7 linked regions of the Homo sapiens genome follow. The protein of the gene in region 6 purifies or fractionates together with the protein of the main gene of each other region. This does not show direct contact. Each region holds a gene or a part of one and is shown on either strand. Other genes may lie near its edges.

The links.
Region 1: the proteins of FERMT3 (region 6) and IPP purify together in Homo sapiens (affinity purification with mass spectrometry; 2 studies listed by BioGRID and IntAct, with this or other methods). This does not show direct contact.
Region 2: the proteins of FERMT3 (region 6) and ALKBH2 purify together in Homo sapiens (affinity purification with mass spectrometry; one large-scale study listed by BioGRID and IntAct). This does not show direct contact.
Region 3: the proteins of FERMT3 (region 6) and ITGB3 purify together in Homo sapiens (affinity purification with western blotting, with the first as the bait; one study listed by BioGRID). This does not show direct contact.
Region 4: the proteins of FERMT3 (region 6) and PKP4 purify together in Homo sapiens (affinity purification with mass spectrometry; one large-scale study listed by BioGRID and IntAct). This does not show direct contact.
Region 5: the proteins of FERMT3 (region 6) and PARVB fractionate together in Homo sapiens (co-fractionation; one large-scale study listed by BioGRID). This does not show direct contact.
Region 7: the proteins of FERMT3 (region 6) and PDCD6 purify together in Homo sapiens (affinity purification with mass spectrometry; one large-scale study listed by BioGRID and IntAct). This does not show direct contact.

The regions. Positions count from the first base shown.
Region 1 is NC_000001.11:45,716,154-45,719,653, reverse strand, and holds part of IPP (actin-binding protein IPP), read left to right. Parts: intron 1-313; coding exon 314-451; intron 452-2,636; coding exon 2,637-2,759; intron 2,760-3,500. UniProt on the Homo sapiens protein: May play a role in organizing the actin cytoskeleton.
Region 2 is NC_000012.12:109,087,689-109,090,472, forward strand, and holds the end of ALKBH2 (DNA oxidative demethylase ALKBH2), read right to left. Parts: intron 2,520-2,784; coding exon 2,321-2,519; intron 825-2,320; coding exon 518-824; 3' UTR 501-517; downstream 1-500. UniProt on the Homo sapiens protein: Dioxygenase that repairs alkylated nucleic acid bases by direct reversal oxidative dealkylation. Can process both double-stranded (ds) and single-stranded (ss) DNA substrates, with a strong preference for dsDNA.
Region 3 is NC_000017.11:47,284,827-47,288,326, reverse strand, and holds part of ITGB3 (integrin beta-3 precursor), read right to left. Parts: intron 2,068-3,500; coding exon 1,905-2,067; intron 1,258-1,904; coding exon 1,096-1,257; intron 1-1,095. UniProt on the Homo sapiens protein: Integrin alpha-V/beta-3 (ITGAV:ITGB3) is a receptor for cytotactin, fibronectin, laminin, matrix metalloproteinase-2, osteopontin, osteomodulin, prothrombin, thrombospondin, vitronectin and von Willebrand factor.
Region 4 is NC_000002.12:158,620,952-158,624,451, reverse strand, and holds part of PKP4 (plakophilin-4), read right to left. Parts: intron 3,463-3,500; coding exon 3,331-3,462; intron 3,222-3,330; coding exon 3,031-3,221; intron 1-3,030. UniProt on the Homo sapiens protein: Plays a role as a regulator of Rho activity during cytokinesis. May play a role in junctional plaques.
Region 5 is NC_000022.11:44,027,302-44,030,801, forward strand, and holds part of PARVB (beta-parvin), read left to right. Parts: intron 1-3,500. UniProt on the Homo sapiens protein: Adapter protein that plays a role in integrin signaling via ILK and in activation of the GTPases CDC42 and RAC1 by guanine exchange factors, such as ARHGEF6. Is involved in the reorganization of the actin cytoskeleton and formation of lamellipodia.
Region 6 is NC_000011.10:64,213,221-64,216,720, reverse strand, and holds part of FERMT3 (fermitin family homolog 3 short isoform), read right to left. Parts: intron 1-3,500. UniProt on the Homo sapiens protein: Plays a central role in cell adhesion in hematopoietic cells. Acts by activating the integrin beta-1-3 (ITGB1, ITGB2 and ITGB3). Required for integrin-mediated platelet adhesion and leukocyte adhesion to endothelial cells.
Region 7 is NC_000005.10:274,646-278,145, forward strand, and holds part of PDCD6 (programmed cell death protein 6), read left to right. Parts: intron 1-1,366; exon of another isoform or gene 1,367-2,295; intron 2,296-3,500. UniProt on the Homo sapiens protein: Calcium sensor that plays a key role in processes such as endoplasmic reticulum (ER)-Golgi vesicular transport, endosomal biogenesis or membrane repair.

The sequences.
Region 1 (3,500 bases), on a different chromosome or scaffold from region 6:
ATGTGAAAAAAAATATAGAAGTGTTAAAATGCAAATTGTATCCTAAAACATTACATGGATTGTTTGATTGTTTGGGTGGTAGAAATAGATAATAGGAAAATTGTGCCTCTGTTTCATAAGTGGGCTTTAATAAATGACAGTGCTCTAGATTCAAAATACTGCTTGACAGGCAAATGAAAGTTAATGAATAGTATAAAATCAGACATAATGGTTGAATTTTTGACGATAGGGAATACTACTGAATATTGTGTTATGGTGCTAGTCTGTTGGCATTACTAAACTTTATAATATTTGTCTCTTTTATTTAACTCAGGTGAAAAGGATTCAATGATTTTTGATTGTACTGAATGCTATGATCCAGTTACTAAACAGTGGACAACTGTAGCTTCGATGAATCATCCCCGCTGCGGCTTAGGAGTGTGTGTGTGTTATGGGGCTATCTATGCTTTGGGTAATTATGTTGTTCAGTTTAAAGATAGCTAATATTGTTTATGTATTTTTAATTTTCATTTTTGTGGATACATAATAGGTATATATATTTATGGGGCACATGAGATACAGGCACATAATGCGTAATAATCACATCTTGTAAAATGGGATATCCATCTCCTCAAGTATTTATCCTTTATGTTACAAACAATCCAGTTATACTCTTCTAGTTATTTTTAAATGTACAATTAAATTATTGACTATAGTCACCCTGTTGCACTATCAAATACTAGGTCTTATTCATTCTTTTTTTTTTTTTTTTGTATTCATTAACCATGCCCACCTCCTCCCTCCCCACCCCCACTACACTACCCTTCCCAGCCTCTGGTAACCATCCTTCTACTCTCTATCTCCATGAGTTCAATTGTTTTGATTTTTAGATCCCACAAAGAAGTGAGAATATGCAATGTTTATAAAGATAGCTAATATTATTTAAATTATTGGGTTCTGATGACTTTGGAGATGTTCTTTCCCTCTTTTCAGCTCTTTACATTCTTTTTTTAAAAACCAACTGGCTTTAATCTGTATACTCTGGAGGCTGGGCAAGGTCTTAGGGGAAGGTGTAGGTGGGGGTCAGCTGGTCAGGGATTGGAGGGGGTGCTCCTGGGCTGTCCATCCTAAGGAGGCACTCAGGCGGGGGATGGTACAGGAGGACCTGAGCACCTGCAGGGCAGAGCCTTGTTGGGCAGATGCATCAGTTCTTGGGCAGATGGTAGATGCCTGCCTGGCCAGTTGGCTGGCTGACCAAGCTGCTAGTCACACACATTCTTCTGCAGGTATCTCTGGAGCTACTGTATGCTGTAGATGCACTTGTCAGCTCTTTAAATTCTTATTCTCAAAATTGTATTACTGGAGATAAAATATAGATGAGACATCCAGTGAAGTACTTTAGCTGAGTAGTTAAATCTCATTATTTTAATTAAGCATATAACATTTTTACCACCCTGCATAGTGGCCTAATTATGTCTAATATAAGAAAGCACATACCAAAAAATTAAATATATCACAAGGAAGTTCTGTACTATATTATTTTTATTCTTGTATATGTAGTGAATGATTATGAGCAAGGTATTCTACTTTGATTATCTGTGTAACAAATGTTACAATCAAGGTTGTTCCTAGGGAAAGTTATAAGTTGATGTAGCTCTCAGCCTCCCCTATTTTCTCCTTCTCACTCCTTCTTCAGTTCACTGTAACTCAGTGTCTTCCCCTCATCCAAACCTATTGTGGAAAAAATATCAGTTACCTTAAGGTGAATTTAATCTATTATATTTTATTACCTCCATAAGTATCTGCATTTTTCAGTTAATTGTGGGAAATAATATTTTCAGTTTTAAGAATTGGAGAGTGTTGGCTGGACATGGTGGCTTACGCCTGTAATCCCAGCACTTTGGGAGGCTGAGGCGGGCGGATCATGAAGTCAGGAGATCGAGACCAACTTGGCTAACATGGTGAAACCCTGTCTCTACTAAAAATACAAACAAAATTAGCTGGGCGTGGTGGTGGGCGCCTGTAGTCTCAGCTACTCCGGAGGCTGAGGCAGGAGAATGGCATGAACCCAGGAGGTGGAGCTTGCACTGAGCCTGAGCCGAGATTGCACCACTGCACTCCAGCCTGGGTGACACAGTGAGACTCCATCTCAAAAAAAAAAAGAATTGGAGAGTGTTAAGAAAATGTTATTGTGGGGATAAGGGGCCTTTTTGAAATTCCTGAAATTACACCAAATACACGGTATACTCTGATTAGGTTTGGAGCTGGCCTTGATTAGGATAAACATTCTAAATAGCCAGAAGTAATTTCAAAAGGTAGTTTTGCAAAATACCATCTTTTCCATGCAATATATTGAAGTTTTGGGGCTTTTGTTGTTTTGTTTTGTTTTAGTCTTTAGTGAAAAATAGGGAGTTAAAAGACTTGAATTCCTTTTTTTTTTTTTTTTTTTTTTTCTCAAAAGAGCATCAGTTATGCAAAGGACCTGAGTTCTACTCATGGTCAAATTCTAACTTTTTCATGGGATCGTGGAACAGATAACCTCTTTGGCTCATGTGATATCTATAATATGAAGTATTTGGTTTAGATGTTTTCTAAGGTCTTTGTCATAAATAAGAATCTTTTATCCCGGAAACAAACATTTTTCTATTTCATTACAGGTGGATGGGTTGGAGCTGAGATAGGGAACACCATTGAACGATTTGATCCTGATGAAAATAAATGGGAAGTAGTTGGTAACATGGCTGTGTCACGCTACTACTTTGGGTGCTGTGAAATGCAAGGTAATCACTTTATAAAATATTTTTCCTCAAAATGTAGTTCTGAAAAACTGTTTGAGTTTGAGGCCTTATTTTCACAAAAGTATATTTTAAGTCTGTTAGTATTGAATGACTGATACTAGCAGCATAGAAGTTCTGCTTTTTACCTCCTATCATTGACTTTTATTTCTGTATTGCTAAAATAATTGATTTGATTTTTTCAGAAATAAACAAGGCTAGAATTAAAAATTGTAAGTAAGCAGGAATATCTGACTAGCACAATAAACATTTGAAGTGTTATCTGTTATTGTCTTTTCTCTCCCATGAACATCTAAGTAAATATTTCTAAGTAGGGAGAGAGTATCAGAAACAGTTTTTGGGTGTGGTGGCTCATGCCTGTAATCCCAGCACTTTGGGAGGCTGAGGCAGGAGGATCACCTGAGGTTAGGAGTTCGAGACCATCCTGGCCAACGTGGTGAAACCTCATTTCTACTAAAAATACAAAAATTAGCTGGGCATGTTACTACACACCTGTAATCCCAACTACTAGGGAGGCTGAGGCAGGATAATTGCTTGAACCCAGGAGGCAGAGGTTGCAGTGAGCGAGATGGTGCCACTGCACTGCAGCCTGGGTAACAGTGAGACTCTATCTCAAAAAATAAATAAAAATAAATTATTTTCATGGTCTATAGGCTTCTTTAGCGTTTTTTTTCTACAAAGTACATTGTGATGCCGCTCACATAACATATAATCCTGTGACAGATT
Region 2 (2,784 bases), on a different chromosome or scaffold from region 6:
AGATAGAGAAAAGGGGCTGAGCCTTGGAATATATGGTTATAAGCAGATCTTTCTTTGGTCAGAGACCAGGGTTTGAGCCAAGGCTGTAAATGTGAACAATAGCTGTGCAAAGCCTTTTAACCTGACTTCTTCATTTTGTAAATTATTATGCATTAAGTAGCAGCCCAATAATCTGATTTCTAGTTTTATTTTCAAAGTAAGTAGCTTCTTTTGGGAAAAACCTAAGTTAAACTAGTAGTTTTGCCATAATAACTGCTGATTTATGTATTTGCTAAAGGTACTTTTGTATCTGCTGTGTATTATAGCAATAAAATAATCATTTTGTTAGAAAAAAATCACCTGGTGTTCTTTTGTAATACACTGATCTGTTACAAACATCATCTTTCTGAATTCTGCATTGTTACATAACAAGCCCTACGCTTTAAACCTTTCTGTGTTCCCTGTTGGTAAGGGAAATGCCAGCTCCCTCTTAGAGTCGAGAGGGAAAGAGAAAAGAGAAAAACTGTTAAAAATGTTTTTATTTTTTAGTAAGCAAAATTTTACGAAAAGTCAGATTCACCCGTGGAGCCAGAACCTTCTTTCTCACGGGAAGACTGTGGTACCAGTGCGTGTTGGTCGGGTGGTTCATCATTAGTAAGCTCCCGTGGGCCAGCGGCAGCCTGACCACCGCCACCCTCCTGGAGGGGCTTTTCCCACGGGAATCCTTATGCCGGAAGACAAAGTCTCTGCAGGCACCGAAGGAGACAGAGGCAATGGGGCTCCCAGGGGCCAGTTCTCTTTCATCATCTCGGTGCTCCCCGATGTGGTCACAGCCATCTTTATACCTGCAATGAGAAAACAAACACAGTGCATAAAAACAACCCTCTCCTGAAACTCACCAGCACCGCCAGCCCTCGTTTTCCTCACAGTGTGAAACAGCACTCTGCATGGCTGTACCTGCCGTTGTTTCTGCGAGGGCTTGAGGTCCACAGTGGGCTCTAAGATAAGCCAACGCTGAAGAGGTCTGTTGACGTATTTGTTCATGTGACTTATTTATTATTATTTTTGAGAGGGTCTCGCTCTGTCACCCAGGCTGAAGTGCAGTGGCACAATCATAGCTCACTGCAGCCTCGGCCTCCTGGGCTCAAGTGATTCTCCCACTTCAGCCTCCCAAGTAGCTGGGACTATAGGTATGCACCACCCCACCTAGCTAATTTCTTTTCTTTTGCAGAAACAGTTTCACCATGTTACCCAGGCTGGTCTCAAACTCGGGCTCAAGCAATTCACTCTCCTTGGCCTCCCAAAGTGTTGGGATTACAGGCATGAGTCACCACGTCCGGCCAGTTCATGTGCTTTAAAACTGAAGACACCCAAAGCCAAAATCACGTCTTACTGTAGTTCCCCTGGCCAGTCTATGTAAACCTTTATCACATGATTTTGCCCTGCACTCAAAGGCCATACTCTGCATAGCCCGGCCCCTGCCCACTGCTGAGCTCATGCCATCCCCTTCTTTCCCTCATTCACTGCTTTCCGGCCATCCTGCAGCATTTTTGCTTCACAGACACTCCAGAGTCCCTCTGCTCTCCCTCCAGATGTCTGTGGCTGGCACTCTCCATTTAGTTATCAGCTCAAACGCACTGCCTCAGCCCTCCTCTAACCACCCCATCTGAAGTGACCTTCCCTTAAACCCACCCAGGGTTCTCCACCAGGGTGATTCTGCCCCAGGGGACAGGTATTGGGGGGTGGGGGACACTACTTGCAATCTAGTGGATGGAGGCCAGGGATCTGCTCAACATCCTGCAAGGCACAGGTCAGCCCCAACAACAACGAATGACTGGGCCCAAAATGTCTGCAGTGCTGCCGTTGAGAAACCTTGCCCTAATCGCAAACCTCTCAGCCATTCTCAGTCAAATCGGCCTGTTTAATTTTTTGCAAGATGGTTATCACTGTCTGAAATCGTCTAGGGTCAGGCATAGTCGTTCACGCCTGTAATCCCAGCACTTTGGGAGGCTGAGGTGGGAGGATCGCTTGAGCCTAGCAGTTTGAGACCAAGCCTGGGCAACATAGAAAAACCCTGTCTCAAAAAAAAAAAAGAAAGAAAAAGAGAAGAAGAAATTATCTCATTCAGCTGTTTGTTCAGGAGTTAATCACCTCTCACTTCCTACTCCGGGATGAGCTCCAGGATCCAGGAAGACCGAGTGCTGGCGCTATTCCACTCTTAGAGCCCCAGTGTACTAAGAAATGATTTGTACCAATGAACCAAATAGGGTGGAACCCTAAACACTTCCTTTTGGAGGAGACAGAAGACTTGTAACATTGAGTCCACTAAACAGGGTGTCACCTGTTGATGAGCACAAAGTTGAAGGTCTGTCCAGTCACCCCAGAGACGTGATCCCGGATGCGCTCTAGAACTGGGATCCAGGGCTTTGGAGACAGCGTGAGGCCTGAAAATGTGTAGGTCAGCCCAGCGTCGCCATACGTTGCCTGCTTCCTGGGCACACTGTGCCACTTCCCGAATACCTGGACTCTGGCCAGTGCTCCTGTGCAGAGGAAACATGGCAGTTCCTTTCTACCTGACCCCCATCTAGAAATCCAGATGCCCCCCCCAACCCGCACTGCCATCACCAGAAATCCAGTGCCCCACATACATGCTCCCTGGGTATTCAAGATTGAAAGGGAAGTAAGGAATAACATTTCCCCGTCATTCCATGCAATTTAAACCCCTCTTCAATCATCATTTTGGCTTGCCCCAAATTTTCTTTTTGTTTTGTTTTCTTTGAGACAGGGTCTCCCTGTGTCACCCAG
Region 3 (3,500 bases), on a different chromosome or scaffold from region 6:
CTTTCTTTCAAGCTAAATGACTCTGGCCCTTTAATCTTTCCTCGTAGGACCTGTTCACCATGCCTTTTATGTTCTTTCCCCTCTTTCTCTCTCTCTCTCTCTCTCTCTCTCTCTCTCTCTTTCTAAGAGAAGGGGTCTCCACTAGGAGCAATGGCTCACACCTGTAATCCCAGCACTTTGGGAGGCTTAAGAGGGCAGATTGCTTAAGCCAAGGAGTTTGAGACCAGCCTGGGCAACATAGAAAGACCCTGTTTTCAAAAATTAGCTGGGCATGGTAGTGCATGCCTGTGGTCCCAGCTATTCAGGAGACTGAGGTGGTGAAGCTTGTGAGCCAAGATTGCACTACTGCACTCCAGCTGGGCAACAAAGCAAGACTCTGTATCAAAAAAAAAAAAAAAAAAAAAAAAAAAAAAAAGCAGGGGTGGTTCTTGCTCTGTCACTCAGGCTGGAGTGTAGTGGCAAGATCACAGCTCACTGCAGCCTCAGACTACTGGGCTCAAGAGATCTTTCTGCCTCAGCCCCACAAGTAGCTGGGACCATAGGCACAAACCACAACACTCAACGAATTTTTGCATTTTCTTGTAGAGGCAGGGTCTCACTATATTTCCCAAGCTGGTTTCAAACTCCTGGACTCACGTGATCCTCCCACCTCAGCCTCCCAAAGTGCTGAGATTACAGGCATGAGCCATCATATGCCTGGCCAATCTTTCTCTTTTTTTTCCTCTGTCTTCTTCCAATAACCACAAGTTAGTATGGTATTCCAAGAAAGGGCTAATCAGAGTGGAGAGGAAGACCTGCTTTCCAGCTGGGTTGTAAAAATCCTTTGGGTCCATTCTGGATCCCATGATGCTGCTGCTATGCTGGTGACAGTGAAGGCAGTGATAACACCACAATCAGGGACATCTCTAATGGTTATATAGGTTGTATGCTGGATGACGGTGTCCAGTTGGTAAGGGATAGGGGCAAGCTGGAACCGAGCCCTGCACCCTGCCCAGAAGGAGGGGCTGCCATTTTCATATTCACACAGACTCTGCCTAGATTAGGGCAACCCTCACAATCATGAATAGAAACCATAGGTGGTGCCAGAGATCTCACCATGGTAGTGGAGGCAGAGTAATGATTGTCACTACCAACATGACACTGCCCGTCATTAGGCTGGACAATGCCTGCCAGCCTTCCGTCCAATGCTATATGAGTCTTGGCATCAGTGGTAAACACCAGCAAGTGGGATGCATCATTCCTCCAGCCAATCTTTTCCTGTTAAAAGAAAACAAAAAACAAAGGCAGAGGAGACAAAACAAATTCAGCCATGTCACTGGTAGAGAACAGAGACCCAAGGTGCTCCCTGGCTAAAGGGCTGGACAGCTTATTTTTCTTCAAAACAAGGGTCTCAGTCCCAGTCCTTGGAACCGAAGCTGAAGCTTTCCAGTTCAGGAGTTTCATTCTCTTCAGAAAACAGTCTCATAGCTGATTAGTTCAAGCAGCTGAATGAGATCTTCTTAAACTCCAAACTTAACTCTTCTAATGACAGTCACATTGCTCATCTAGAAACTGACGTGCATCCACAGAGCTGATCTGGGCTAGAAGAAATCTCATCTGAACATCTGCCTACTTTGCTGAGGTTAAGTTAACTCAGCCTTAACTCTGAAGTAACTCTGAAGATGGGAAGATGCTCTCCCCTGGGAACATCTGAGACCACTGAGGTTCAAAGAAATGTCAGCTCAGGCCAGGGAGTGGATCTAAGCCAAGGCTGAATATCAGGAGCAACTTACTACTCATAACTGCAGGAAGCCCTGCTTAGTTCTCATCTCATTTTACACCAGAAATCCCCAGAGTTCAGTCACTTCCTTTCCCATTTTGATCTATGCCAGCCACACCTGGCACTCCAAGTCCTCCAAACTCACATCACAGACTGTAGCCTGCATGATGGCATCAAAGCCACCCTCTGGGGCATCTCGGTTCCGTGACACACTCTGCTTCTTCACTTCCTCATTGAAGCGGGTCACCTGGTCAGTTAGCGTCAGCACGTGTTTGTAGCCAAACATGGGCAAGCAGGTGGTCTTCATACTGGGGAGGGATGGGAGATAATTTAAGCAGACACCTTCATGGAAAAGGCAGCATGGGAATTGGGAGGAAAGAGAGGGGACAAATATAGATAGTGGTATGCCAAGGCCAGTTCCATACAACCACAGTTACCCAGACAGTTCAGACTCCAAAATCCTCAAATTATCTGAAGCTCCCCATCAACATTACCCCCATCCAGCTAACCTAGAAGATAAGAGATTGAGCTGGAAACAAGACTCCCTGAGCTTAGATCCCAGGTGCCCTCTGTACTAGTCATGGGACCTTTGGCAAGCCTCTCAATCCAACCTATGAAAGAGGGGCCAGGATAGCACATATCCCATAAGAGTTGTGAGACTTAAGTAAGTTCATACACACAAAGCACTTAGACCAGAGCGAGGCTCGAGTTGCTATTACTATCACCTTATACTTAACACTTTCCTAAAGTAACAATAAAGCAAAAGTCCATCAGTAAGTTAAGGTCCCTGAACCATCAATAAATTGATAGATCATGCAAGACAGGAGCATTTCTGCCCCCAGTCAAAATAGTGTGTTTAATTAATAGCTGATGTCTTGCCTGGGAACCTTACAACCCAGATAGAAGGTTGAATGCCACATCATATAACTTCAAAACTTTTTCTTTTTTTTTTAGAGACAGTTGTGCTCCATTGTCCAGGTTGGAGTGCAGTGGCACAATCATGGCTCACTGCAGCCTCAACCTCCCAGGCTCAATCAATCCTCCCACCTCAGCCTCCCTGTAGTCCTGGGGACTGCAGGCATGCGCCATCACACATAGCTAATTTTTTTGTAATTTTTGTAGAGATGGGGGTCTCACTATGTTGCCTAGGCTGAACTCAAACTCCTAGGCTCAAGTGATCCTCCCATCTTGGCCTCCCAAAGTGCTGGGATTACAGAAGTGAGTCACCCCACCTGGCCGTAACTTTGAAAACTAAAAAGTAAATTCACACCTTTTCAGGCTCAGCAACCAGCATTGTAAGTTATTCTAATACATGGATTTGCACAGTCTCCACCGATTAAATAAATAAGCCATTCAGTTTTAAGCCAAAGTGTCAAACAGAGGCACAAGTTATCCATTTACAGACTATAAAAGTGTCCAACAAATGTCATTTCCACTCTTTTATATTCCTTAGCACTTCATTTCTTCTGTTTTCACCCTGCAGGATGCACGGCCTTGATGAAGACAATAATGCCAACAATGGAATCGATCCTTCTGTAATCGTAATTTCTCGGTTTCCTTATCCATAAATTTCTTTCTACTTTTGACGTCATTTCCCTCCCATTCTCTCTTGCCTTCTATTTATTTGTTACCAAGACTGAGAAGCTGATGAATTTTCTTTCTAGGTTCTCCAAACAGCCTTAGGCTCCATTGACACAACACTCCAGATCCACAAGCTAGCCCATTTGCCAAACAGGGAGAC
Region 4 (3,500 bases), on a different chromosome or scaffold from region 6:
TATGTAAAACAAAAATTTGAATATAATTTGAATATATCAGTCTAAATGTAGCTAGTGGAATATTTATCATTGTTTTTCTTTATGGGTTGGTCCCATTAACAAAAGGAACATGTTCTTTCATTGTGGAATAAATGAACATTTGGATCAAGTGTGGGTCTGGCGCTCTCCACTGTGAATTTACTTCGGGGAACAGCTTGGCTACACAGGTGCTCTAGGCAAATTTGTTGATTCCTTTAGATCAAGCATAGCTTCTCACTTTAGCCATTTCTTTTTACCTCTTCTGATCTATGAGTTCTTAGCTTTAATTGGTGGATTTAAAGAGATGCAAAAAAAAGGCACCCCCAAATCTATTCCAGCAGGAGGAATGGTCAAAGCCTCTTTTGGGTTCTTGGCCTAGACAGCTGGAAAAGACCAGGATGGAAAGTGAACATTTCTGCCATTGCTGATCCTACTCTGAATCTGTTGATTCCTGCAGTTACAGCAGGTGCTGGACACTGTTTTTCATGCTGTGCAACAATAAAAAGGAATGGTTAGGCTGGAGAAGGGGCCCAAGGGAAACATGTATGGGAAAAAGGAGAGCCAACTGAGAAATAAAGACATTAGGGATCCAGGTTAGAAGACTAGGACCAGGCTGCTCTGTTACCTCCTTAGTGGCTGCTAGAGTCTAGTTGTCATCAACCCACATCCACTTTTAGGTGGGGAGGTAAGGAAAGAAGCAGGGATCAGATGAGGGCTTTGTATACCCTTAGGGGTCATATGAGGATGTCTGCTCTGCCTCCAGGTGTCGCATGCAACTGGGCTGGCTGAAACACTTGCAGTGAGAACTCACTGTGTGTTCAAGTTCAACAATTTTGGGAAGGCAATAGCAGGGGAGAAGACATGGGGAGGAAAGAGGATGGTAAACAACAAGGCAAAAAAGATGGGGTTTAAAAATTAGTAGACAGCTGGAAAGTTAACAAGCATGATTGGGGCTGGGTGTGGTGGCTGACACCTATAATCCCTACACATTGGGAGACTGAGGAGGGAGGATTGCTTGAGGCCAGGAGCTTGACACCAGCCAGGGCAACATAGTGAGGCCCAGCCTCTACAAAAAACAAACAAACAAAAAAATTAGCTGGGCATGGTGGCATGTGCCTGCAGTCTTAGCTACTCCAGGAGGCTGAGTCAGGAAAATCGCTTGAGCCCAGGGGATTGAGACTATAGTGAGCTATGATTTTGCCATATTGTACTCCAGCCTGGGTGACAGAGTGAGACCTTGTCTCTATTAATTAAGAACAACAACAAAAAAAGCATGATTGGGTGGTAATAGTGGTAACAAAATGCAAAGAAAATCCCACATGACTTGCAACTACCAAAATGAAGTGATAAGTTGGTCCAGACAACTAGAAAATGTGTTGCCTAGACTACATGCAAATTAAGTCTCAGACACCCCCTTGCAAACAATTCTTTAGCTCTAGTGAGAAAATCAACTTACTCTTAAAGAAAAAAGTGTTTACATGATCATTACTAAGGGCAATAAAATTTATATAGATATAAGGTAACTGCTGTTGAAAAGTGTGATTTCAGACCTGCTGACACAGAAATTCACCTAAGCGGATGAACTCCCATTAGCATTTAGTCCAGAGCTTCTCAAACTTTTCCACCAAAGCATCCCCAACAGCAAAAGAATAAATATATAATCTGAGGACTTGGGGTGCAGCCTGAAGTTGCTTGCCACATGCACAAGATTTCCCATTTTAGCTTGAAAAATTCATATGTTATATTTGTGTTTAATACAAACATGTTTTAAATGACTCTGAAATTTCTCCTGAATTGCTGAGCAAAAGTGCCAAAGTTGTATTATGTTTCTCTGTGGGCGTTGGGAACCGTGACCCATTGCTGTGTACCTGTAGAGCTTCCTGTATTGCAGTAGAAGCAGCACAGTGTCCTCCTAACTTATTTGATTATCTTGCTACTTTTCAGCTCTAAAGAAAGCACTGGGGTTTTGGGGTCCTGGCACAGATAGTTAGCCTCACTGGTTACCACCATGCAGGACTCCTATTGCCTCTCTGAATCCTGGGACATGCTGGTGGACTGATGTGAATACAGTGGTAATGAGAAAGGAGCTGAAGAGTTTTTATAAATATACATGCAATATATATTTTTTGCTATCAAGTTAGAGAACCCTAACTTAACAGAATGGATATGTTTCTATACAATAACTTTCTTTAAGCAGGAATAGCTGTATTCTATCTAGTAAAAGAAAAGAAATGTAGTTTTAGAGAATAATTCCAGTGATGATGGTAATAACCTTTGGTTAGAATGGGCAAATCCCATTTTATGCAGGTGTGGGTATAGCACCCTGCCCTCTAGAGCTTTTTATAGCATATTTTAGCCCTAGTATTTTTAGGAACTCATAACCCCTCAGGGACCAAAACATTCCATTCAACTCTCTTACATTCCCCTTAGACTCTTCTCCTCATGCCAAACTTGTTGTTTCCAGAAGAATTACTCTACTGTATCCAGGAACTCATCAGAATTCATCAATGGGAGCTAACTCATAGAAACAAACATATTTAACATTGTATCTCAAATAGAATAAAATGATTTTACTATTTTATCCATTCTATAAAAATTGTACACATTTATTTCTAATAAGAAATACCTATAACAGATATTCAACTAGGAGTGTATTTCTTTTTTTTTCCTTTTTTTTTTTTTTGTTTTGAGACGGAGTCTCGCTCTGTCGCCCAGGCTGGAGTGCAGTGGTGCGATCTCGGCTCACTGCAAGCTCTGCCTCCTGGGCTCAAGTGATTCTCCTGCCTCAGCCTCCCGAGTTGCTGAGATTACAGGCGCCCGCCACCACGCCCGGCTAATTTTTGTATTTTTAGTAGAGACGGGGTTTCGCCATGTTAGGCAGGCTGGTCTTGAACTCCTGACCTCAGGTGATCCACCCGCCTCGGCCTCCCAAAATGCTGGGATTACAGGCATGAGCCACTGTGCCCGGCCGGAAGGTATTTCTTTGCAGAGATCTTGATGCGTTTGGCTTACCTGAACCAGTGTTTGTCCTTCAGCTCTTGAATTCCTCACCACATGGTTGTTAGTTGATCCTATGAATGAATGCTGCTGTCTGTTGTCTGCCTTGCTCACGTTCTGGCTGTTGTGGAAACTCCCTGCTTCCTGGTATCCACTGTCGGAATAAGAATTCATTTGTGTTGAACTTCTTGAGTTACCCAATGATCCTGTAAGAATGAAACCAAGAAATATCTTTATTATACACACTTCTGACACTCGCTTTCAAGAATAAAATCTTAAAAGCAAATCCAGTACTTAAAAGATAACACAACAGACCCTCACTTTCATGGAGAGATGTCTGTTCTGGTGAATAGAGGGTTCCTTGTTCTGGCTCTGTCCTGATGAGATAGTTGTTGGGCTGGACAGCGTCAGAAACTCTAGGTTTGCTTACACCAGTATTTGGCACGTCTGTAACAAGAAAAGTTTAATCAGCTAAATATAATAAC
Region 5 (3,500 bases), on a different chromosome or scaffold from region 6:
GTCCAGTGGGCCAGGATGGAGGTCGGGGACAGCCCAGCTGCTGCTGGAAGTCCTCAGAGGCGGATGGCCGGCCCTGGCCAGTGTGGAAGAGGTCGGGTGGAGTGCTCCACACATTTGCCACAAGAGGCCTGTTCTGTGCTGCACCAGGCACTGGACCTCAGGCGCCACTGCCCAGTGGCCAGGGTCAGGTTTCTCAGAGACAGCTGAAGGCAGCGGGGCGAGAGCAGCCAGTCTGGAGGTTCTGTCCCTCTTTTCTGAGCAACACATTCAGGAAGTTTCTATCCCCTGATTACCTTAAAAAATATGTATGTGTGGGCCAGGTGAGGTGGCTCACGCCTGTAATCCCAGCACTCTGGGAGGCCGAGGTGGGTGGATCACCTGAGGTCGGGAATTCGAGACCAGCCTGGTCAACATGGTGAAACCCCATCTCCAGTAAAAACGCAAAAATTAGCCGGGCATGGTGGCGTGTGCCTGTAATCCCAGCTACTTGGGAAGCTGAGGCAGGAGAATCGCTTGAACCTGGGAGGTGGAGGTTGCAGTGAGCTGAGATTGCCTCACTGCGCTGCAGGCTGGTCAACAGAGTGAGACTCCATATCAAATAGAAAAAAAAACCATATATATATATATATATATATATATTCATGTGTGTGTATATATATTCACATATATATATTGACGTATATTTTTAAAGCAGTTTTAGGTTTACAGCGAAATCTAGCAAAGAATACAAAGTGTCCCCACCTATCCCTTCTCACCTCCATCAGTGCCCCCCGGCTGTGTGGTAGAGTCGTGAGCCAACGCTGAGACATCATTATCTCCGCAAGCTCATAGTTTACATTAGGGGTTGCTCTTGCCGTTGGACATTCTGTGGCTCTGGATGGATGTAGAGTGACATGGACCCACCATTACAGTCACCTCTGGAGCAGCGTCACTGACCCCAGAATCCTCTTTCTGCTGCCTATGCATCCCTCCGTTTCCCCAAATCCCTGGCAACCACGGATCATTTTTTTGTTTTGTTTTTTTGGTTTTTGTTTTTGTTTTTTTTACTGTATCTGTGTTTTTGCCTTTTCCAGACTATCATCTAGTTGTGATCATAAAGTGTACAGTAGCGTTTTCAGATTGGCTTCTTCCACTCAATGATATACATTGAAGGCCCTTCCATGTCTTCTCAGGGCTTGGTAGCTCATTCCTTTTTTGACTGAATAATATTCCGTTGTCTGGATGTGCCAGTTTGTTGATCCATTCACCTGCTGAAGGACATCTTGGTTGCTTCCAAGTTTTGGCAGTTATGAATAAAGCTGCTGTGTACATCTACGTGTAGGTTTTTGTGTGGAGATAAGGTTTTAATTCATTTGAGCTCAATTGCTGGATCGTATGGTAAGAGTGTGTCTCGTTTTGGAAGAAACTGCCAAACTCTCTTCCAAAGTGGCTGTGCCACATTTATTCACCGGTGGCGAACGAGAGTCCTGGCTGCTCTGCATCCTCACCAGTATTTGGTGGTGTCAGTGTTCTGGATTTTGGAATTCTGTTAGGTGTATTGTGGTGTCTTGTTGCTGTTTCAATTCGCATTTCCCTGATGAGGTATGAAGTGGAGCATCTCTTCAGATGCTTATTTGCCATCTGTGTATCTTCTTCAGTGAAGTGTCTATTAAGGTCATTGGCTCATTTGTATTTTATTTATTTTTATTTTTATTTTATTTTTGAGATAGGGTCTCACTGTAGCCCAGGCTGGAGTGCAGTGGCACGATCCTGGCTCACTGCAGCCTCAATCTCCTGGGGCTCAAGTGATCCTCATGCCTCAGCTTCTGGAGTAGTTGGGACTACAGGCACATACCACCATGCCCAGCTAATTTTTCTATTTTTTGTAGAGATGGGGTCTCGCTATGTTACCCAGGCTGCTCTCAAACTCCTGGACTCAGGAGATCCACCTGCCTTGGCCTCCCAAAGTGCTAGGATTACATGCGTGAGCCACAGTGCCCGGCCTTGGCCTATTTTTAAATCTGCTTGTTTGTTTCCTTACTGTTGAGTTGGAAGTGTTCTTCATATATTTTGGATACAAGTCATGTGTTTTGCAAATATTTTCTCCCAGCCAGCGGCTTGTCTTCCCTGTCTCTTGATCCTGATATCTCCTAAGCATTTGATGTAGAGTTAATGATTAATGAGCAAGATATTGAGACCTCATCAACTAGATCTAAAGAAATCACTAGGCCAGACACATAATCCCAGCACTTTGGGAGGCTGAGGCAGGTGGATCACCTAAGGCCAGGAGTTTGAGACCAGCCTGGCCAACGTGGGGAAACCCGGTCTCTACTAAAAATAGAAAAATTAGCCAGGCGTGGTGGCTCACGCCTGTAATCCCAGCACTTTGGGAGGCTGAAGCGGCAGATCACCTGAGGTCAGGAGTTTGAGACCAGCCTGGCCAACGTGGTGAAACCCCATCTCTACTAAAAATACAAAAATTAGCCGGGCGTGGTGGCACACACCTGTAATCCCAGCTACTCAGGAGGCTGAGGCAGGAGAATCACTCGAACCCGGGAAGCAGAGGTTGCAGTGAGCTGAGATCGCGCCACTGCACTCCAGCCTGGGAGACAAAGCGAGACTCTGCCTCAAAAAAAAAAAAGAAAAGAAAAGAAATCACTAGGTAGCTGCGACATTGAACTGAAGGTTGAAAGTATTAAGTTTCTTTGTGGACTTTAAATAACCTTCAGGAGAGAAATCTCAAAGCTCTAAACCAGCAACCGAGAATTTCCTTCAGGGCATCCATCTTTTACACGGAGCCATCAGTTGTGTAGATGATGGGTTGCCCCAAAACACTAAGACGCACCAGTGAAGGGAGGGGAGCTGTGGCAGGGGGGCCTGCACTGCCCCCGCCTTTCCCCCCAGCAACGCCTGGGCTGGGAGCTGGGGGTGGGTGAGACCCTGGCTCAGGCCCCACTCAGGACAGTTTGAGGGACAGGCAGATGGGGGGACTGAGCCATGGGGGTCTCACCACCCAGACTTGGGGTTTTGGGCCTCCCTGGAGGAAGTGGTCCTGGCTGAATGTCTAGGATGGATGTAAATTAGCCCAGGGAGGGGGAGGGGGCTCCTGAGGAGACCCCCAGGCAGGCTCCCAGTGGCTGAGCAACGGTGCAGCCTGTGGGCTGTGGCCAGCCCTGGTCGGGGGCTGGAGAGGTGAGCAGCCCTGGCGTCCCACAAACACAGGAGCTTGGAACCCTTGCTGGGGCTTGGCAGGGGTGGCCGATTTCAGTGGTGCTTTGGGGAGTGGGGAATGGACGGAATGGGGGAACGGCGGGGAGGCAGGCTGGCAGGAATGTGGCACGGGGCACAGGCAGTGCCCCGAGGAGGTGGCGTGGGTGGGCGCAGGCGTGGCTGTGATTTCCACGCTGTTTTCTAGCGGGCTGCAGCCCCTCTGATGCTGAAATGAAAAAGGACCCAGATCCTTGTTTGTGGGAGGGGTGGGAAAGGATTTGCAAGGAGTGTGGTCTCTTTTGGACGATTTT
Region 6 (3,500 bases):
AGGTTCACGCCATTCTCTTGCCTCAGCCTCCCAAGTAGCTGGGACTACAGGCGCCCACCACCACGCCCGGCTAATTTTTTGTATTTTTAGTAGAGACAGGGTTTCACCGTGTTAGCCAGGATGGTCTCGATCTCCTGACCTCATGGTCCGCCCTCCTTGGCCTCCCAAAGTGCTGGGATTACAGGCGTGAGCCACCGCGCCCGGCGAAAAAATCCTTATAGAGGCTGGGCCCGGTGGCTCACGCCTGTAATCCCAGCACTTTGGGAGGCTGAAGCGGGCAGATCACGAGGTCAGGAGTTTGAGACCAGCCTGGCCAATGTGGTGAAACCCCGTCTCTACTAAAAATACAAAAATAATTAGGCCAGGCGTGGTGGTGCATGCCTGTAATCCCAGCTGCTCGGAAGGCTGAGGCAGGAGAATGGCTTGAACCAGGGGGGCAGAGGTTGCAGTGAGCCGAGATCTTGCCATTGCACTCCAGCCTGGGTGACAGAAGAAGACTCCATCTCAAAAAAAAAAAAAAAAATCCTTACAGAGCTAAAGCACTGCACTCATAAATCAAGACCAGAATATTCTTTTTTTAAAGGAATGTAACTGGGCGCAGTGGCTCACGCGTGTAATCCTAGCACTTTGGGAGGCCGAGGCGGGCGGATCATTTGAGGTCAGGAGTGTGAGACCAGCCTGACCAACATAGTGAAATCCTGTCTTTACTAAAAATACAAAAATTAGTTGGGTGTGGTGGCAGATGCCTATAATCCCAGCTACTCAGGAGGCTGAGGCAGGGGAATCTCTTGAACCCGGGAGGCGGAGGTTGCAGTAAGCCGAGATCGTACCACTGCACTCCAGCCTGAGTGTGACAGAGTGAGACTCCGTCTAAAAAAAAAAAAAAAATCCCAACTTCTCAGGAAGCCGAAGCGGGAGGATAACTTGAGACCCAATCTGGGCAACGTAGCAAAACTCCATCTCTAAACAATTTTTAAAGAATTAGCCAGGCTTGTGGCACATGCCTGTAGCCCCAGCCACTCAGGAAGCTAAGGCAGGAAGATTGCTTGAGCCCAGGAGTTCAAGGTTGCAGTGAGCTATGATCGCACCACTGCACTCTAGTCTGGGTGACAGAGCGAGACCCCATCTCTAAAAATAAAAAAAGAAAGATAAAAATATAAATTTGGTTCTATTAAAATAAAGAGCTGCTGTTTATGAAAAGAAACCATTCAGACAATTAAAAGGCAAAGCACAGAGGGGGAAAATATATTCACAATGTATTTATCTGGCAAAGTGCTCATATCCAGAATATATAAAGAACTCCTACAAATCAATAAGAAAAAGACAAACGACTCAATATGACAATTGTCAAAATGTTTGAACAGAAACCTCACAAAGCAGGATATCCAGATGGCTAATAGCCTTATGAAAAGGGACTCAACTTTATTAGTCATCAGGGAAATGTAAATTAAAGCCACATGGAAAGCAGATCAGTGGTGGTCGGGGTGTGGGAGGAGGAATGACTGCAAATGGGCATCGTGCAATCAGTGCTTGTCTGGGGCAGTGGAAATGTTCTAAAACTGGATTGTGGTGATGGTTGCACAACCATACACATTTGTTAAAAATAAGCTGAGCCGGGCGTGGTGGCTCATGCCTGTAATCCCAGCACTTTGGGAGGCCAAGGCAGGTGGATCACCTGAGGTCAGGAGTTCGAGACCAGCTTGGCCAACATGGTGAAATCCCATCTCTACTCAAAATACAAGAAGAAATTAGCTGGGCATGGTGGCGGTGGGCATCTGTAATCCCAGCTATGTGGGAGGCTGAGGCAGGAGAATCGCGTGAACCCAGGAGGCAGAGGTTGCAGTGGGCCGAGATCACGCCATTGCACTCCAGCCTGGGCAACAAGAATGAAACTCCCTCTCAAAAAAAAAAAAACCCTATAAAAGAACACTCAAAAAACAAGAGCTCTTGGAACTTAAAAATATAGTTACAGAAATTAAAAATTCAATAGATATTTTAGAAGATAAGTTGAAGAGGTCTCCGGAGAGTAGGACACAGAAAGAAAAAGAACCGAAAAATAAGAAAGAAAAGTGTAGGCCAGGCATGGTGGCTCACGCCTGTAATCCCAGCATATTGGGAGGTTGAGGCAGGTGGATCGCCTGAGGGCAGGAGTTTGAGACCAGCCTGACCAACATGGTGAAACCCCATCTCTACTAAAAATACAAAAAATTAGCCAGGCGTGGTGGTGGGCGCCTGTAATCCCAGCTACTAGGGAGGCTGAGGCAGGAGAATCGCTTGAATCCGGGAGGCGGAGGTTGCAGTGAGCCAAGATCACACCATTGCACTCTAGCCTGGGCAACAAGAGCGAGACTCCATCTCAACAACAAAAATAGATAAATAAATACAGTTAGCTGGGCATGGTGGCGCGTGCCTGCAGTCCCAGCTACTTGGGAGGCTGAAGCAGGAGATCGCTTGAATCCGCGAGGTGGAGGTTGCAGTGAGCTGAGATTGTGCCATTGTACTCCAGCCTGGGCAACAAGAGCAAAACTCATCTCAAAAAAAAAAAAAAAAAAGGCAATTATGAACTTCAAAACCATTTGAGCAAAAAGGGAAAAAATAATCATAGTTACTCTGTGGCTTAACTAGGAACACTATTTATATGTGTTACTATTTACAGCCATATCACATTGTTTTAACCAAAGACTACAGACACTACTCACTTAGAAAGAGGCAAGGAAATGTGTGTATTGTGTGGGCAGGGAAGAGAATGTAAGACAGTGAAACCTTCTTACAAAGTCAATAGATAATGTGTGAAATGGCAAAACAAAGAAGTGGAAATATGTCATAGAGAAGAAAACACTAGAATAAAAAGGCACAGCTGGCCCGACGCCGTGGCTCACGCCTGTAATCCCAGCACTTTGGGAGGCCAAAGTGGGCAAATCACCTGAGGTCAGGAGTTCGAGACCAGTCTGACCAACATGGAGAAACCCCGTCCATCTCTACTAAAAATACAAAATTAGCTGGGCATGGTGGCTCAACGCCTGTAATCCCAGCTACTCGGGAGGCTGAGGCAGGAGAACTGCTTGAACCCAGGAGGCGGAGGTTGTGATGACCTGAGATCACGTCATTGCACTCCAGCCTGGGCAACAAGAGCAAGACTCCATCTCAAAAAAAAAAAAAAAAAAATTAGGCCAGGCGCAGTGGCTCGCTCCTATAACCCCAGCACTTTGGGAGGCTGAGGCGGGTGGATCACCTGAGGTCAGGAGTTCGAGACCAGCCTGACCAATATGGTGAAACTCCATCTCTACTAAAAAAATACACTCCTATTACCCCAGCAATTTGGGAGGCTGAGGCGGGTGGATCACCTGAGGTCAGGAGTTCGAGACCAGCCTGACCAATATGGTGAAACTCCATCTCTACTAAAAAAATACACTCCTATAACCCCAGCACTTTGGGAGGCTGAGGCAGGTGGATCACCTGAGGTCAGGAGTTCGAGACCAGCCTGACCAATATGGTGAAAC
Region 7 (3,500 bases), on a different chromosome or scaffold from region 6:
TGATGGTTTCCACTTACTCAACACTCACACGCTGGGCTAGGCACTTAACCCAAATCCAAGGTCAGCATTATTGTTTGGGGGTGGGGGAGACACCTCCTGCTCTGACTTGTGTGTTTGGGTTCCTGTATTTTCACCAGAGGGAGTTAGTCCTGCCCCAGTTCAGCTGGTCCTCAAAGTGTATATAGCTCTTTAACCATCAGCAAGTGTCTATCAGAACATAATCTTGATTTCAGCTGCTACTAAATATCTACCAGGAGACTGCTTGAGAGAATTGCCTGATGGGTGCTGAGTCCACCATTCCTGAGATACTTTGAAATCAGTGGCTTAACCCAAGCTGTGTATCGGGACCCTCTCACCGTGGTCCCAATGGAGTCACTTTTCTTAGGCGCCCCCCTTTACCTTGGGCTCTGAGCTTCCTCTGCCTTTCATCTCTGTGGGATGAAGCCCCACCGCCCTTCAGGATGCAAAGCCCTCTTCTCTAATGTGAGTGCAGGGCCAGGTGCAGTGGCTCACGCCTGACCTCCCAACACTTTGGGAGGCCGAGGCAGGGGGATCCCTTGAGCCCAGGAGTTTGAGACCAGCCTGGGCGACACTGTGAGACCCTGTTGCCTGAATTGCCCTGGGAGATTTCCTCAGCTTGTGCTGGGGGCATGTGGCCCCATGAAGCCCGTAGTCACTGTTCACCCTGAGAGACGCTGGCTTTCGGGCTCACACACCTGCTGCGGGGCAGCCCCAGGAAATGGCCACCCCATTTCTCCTGGAGCTGCGCGTGTTCTCAGAAACTGTGGTGGCCGTTCTGTTTTGTTTGCATCTTATAAACGTTTACCTGATGACATTTTCCTCTTCAATTTAGCTGCTAGAAAATTTAAAGTCAGGTTGGTGGCTCACCAGTAATGAGAGTTTAGAGTAGAAGTAAACTTTATGACATAGTCTTAGACTCTTCACTTTCTTCTCAACCAATATGATTCACATTTACTTTATTTTGCTGTACCGTGAGTGTCTCTGTGTTTCCTGAATTCCTTCTGGAATAAGGCAGGTTGTTAGTAAGCACAGGTTTCTGGTCCATCTCACAGCCTCAGGCAGTGGGCATTGCTGTCGGTGCTCCCTTTCCGGGTTACCTGTGGTAGCTCTCAAGTTGCAGGGCTGCGATTTGAAGCCTGATTTAGTACACCGTGTTTCTGTTGTGTTCTGTGGTGGTTTGCTCCTCACATGTGAGCATTCACCGTGGCCCTGTGTTTTTCCACCACACCTCTGCCTGGTGGCATCCTACTGGATGTCTCAGCCGAGCCACTCTGTTCTGAAGATGCCCTTGTCCTCCACCCCTTTGCTTTGGGCTCTAAGCTTCTTCTGCCTTTCATCTCTGTAGGATGAAGCCCCACCCGCCCTTCAGGATGCCAGCCTTGGCAACATTGTGAGACCCTGTTTCTACAAAAAGTAAATGAGTGTAGTGGTGCACGCCTGTATTCCCAGCTACTTGGGAGGCTGAGATGGGAAGATCACTTGAGCCTGGGAGGTTGAGGCTGCATTGAGCTGAGATCAAGCCACGGCACTCCAGCCTGGGAGACAGAGCGAAACCCCATCTCAAAAAAACAAAGAAAGTGGATGCGCGCTGCTCCTGCCATTGGATCATCGCAGCATTTTTCTTTTCTCTGATATGCACCTTTTTCCTCATCGTGGGGGCTCACGTTTTCATAGTTCCCTCTCACTACTAGGTTGTGAGCTGCGTGAAGGAAGGTTCATAGTTGTGTTGTATGTACAGGCACACAAAATTTGTCCTTGGATAAACACATATCCTCTTCCTTCTTCTCTCTGAATTTCTTTATTTTAAGAAAAAAATTAGAGATGGAGTCTCACTGTCTTGCTCAGGCTGGTCTCAAACTCCTAGGCTCAAGTGATCCTCCTGCCTCAGCCTATACTAATATGAATTCCTATACTAATATGATTGAAATTAGTTTGATTTCTATAATAATTGTGCTCCCAGATTGGGCTTCTGTTTTGATAGTAGAACTAAATTATTAGGCTATTTCAAGAAATTAATATATTACTGGTAGAAAAACTGAAGCTACAAAATGGCCTGGTTTCTCACTTCAGTTAAATTTGTGCTTCTGAGTGCTTGTATTCTAGGTGAAACCACACTGAGAAGGTATTTGTGGCCCATACACTGATTCCTTCATGAGACTTGTTTGCACAGGAGAGCTGCTAAAAATTACTGCTCTCAGGGAGGTCTGTGGTGAACAGGTATGAAGAAGAAGACTGTTCTCTGCCCTTCTTTTTGCAATAAAATGTTCCAAACTATCTTGAGTTTGATCCCTTTTCGGGTGTTTGGGGTTTTTTTAACATTCACATATTTCTTGGAATTATAAGAAATTAACTTTGTGCTTCTGAAGTAGGTTTGCCTTAATATAACACTGATGTATTTGTAAGGGGCATTTTTAAAGCTGTACTTTAAAAAATAATAATTCTTACATTCGTTTGAAGGTTTTTTTATGTGTGTTTTTGAGACAGAGGCTTGCTCTATCGCCCAGGCTGGAGTGCAGTGGCACGCTCTTGGCTCACTACAACCTCCGCATCTGGGGTTCAAGCGATTCTCCTGCCTCAGCCTCCTGAGTAGCTGGGACTACAGGTGCCCACCACCACGCCCAGCTAATTTTTTGTATTTTTTTTTTTTTTTTTTTTTTGAGGCAGAGTCTCTGTCGCCTAGGCTGGAGTGCGGTGGCACTATCTTGGCTCACTGCAAGCTCCGCCTCCTGGGTTCATGCCATTCTCCTGCCTCAGCCTCCCGAGTAGCTGGGACTACAGGCACCCGCCACCATGCCTGGCTAATTTTTTGTCTTTTTAGTAGAGACGGGGTTTCACCGTGTCAGCCAGGATGGTCTCGATCTTATGACCTCATGATCCACCCGCCTCAGCCTCCCAAAGTGCTGGGATTACAGGCGTGAGCCACCACGCCCAGCAATTTTTTGTATTTTTAGTACAGACAGGGTTTCACCATGTTAGCTAGGATGGTCTTGATCTCCTGACCTCTTGATCTGCCCACCTCAGCCTCCCAAAGTGCTGGGATTACGGGCGTGAGCCAGGGGGCCAACATGGTGAAACCCTATCTCTACTAAAAATACAAAATTAGCCGGGAATGGTGGTGCGCGCCTATAATCCCAGCTACTCGGGAGGCTGAGGCGTGAGAATCACTTGAACCTGGGAGGCAGAGGTTGCAGTGAGCTGAGATAGCGCCACTGCACTCCAGCCTGGGGGGCAGTGAGACTCCATCTCAAAAAAAAAAAAAAAAAAGAATAGAATAACCCTTGTTTAGGTGTTAACAAAATCCAGGCCAGACAAATCTAAACTTTAATCTCATACCCAGTTCCTAGATGAGTCCCTTCTCCAGCTCAGGTTCCGCCTAAGCCTCAGGGTTCCTTACTTGGTGGGCACCACCTGCTCCCTTCCCCACCTTTGTCCTCTTTTTCCTCTGCTGGCTCCTCCGGGGTTGGGTGTGTTCAGAGGCA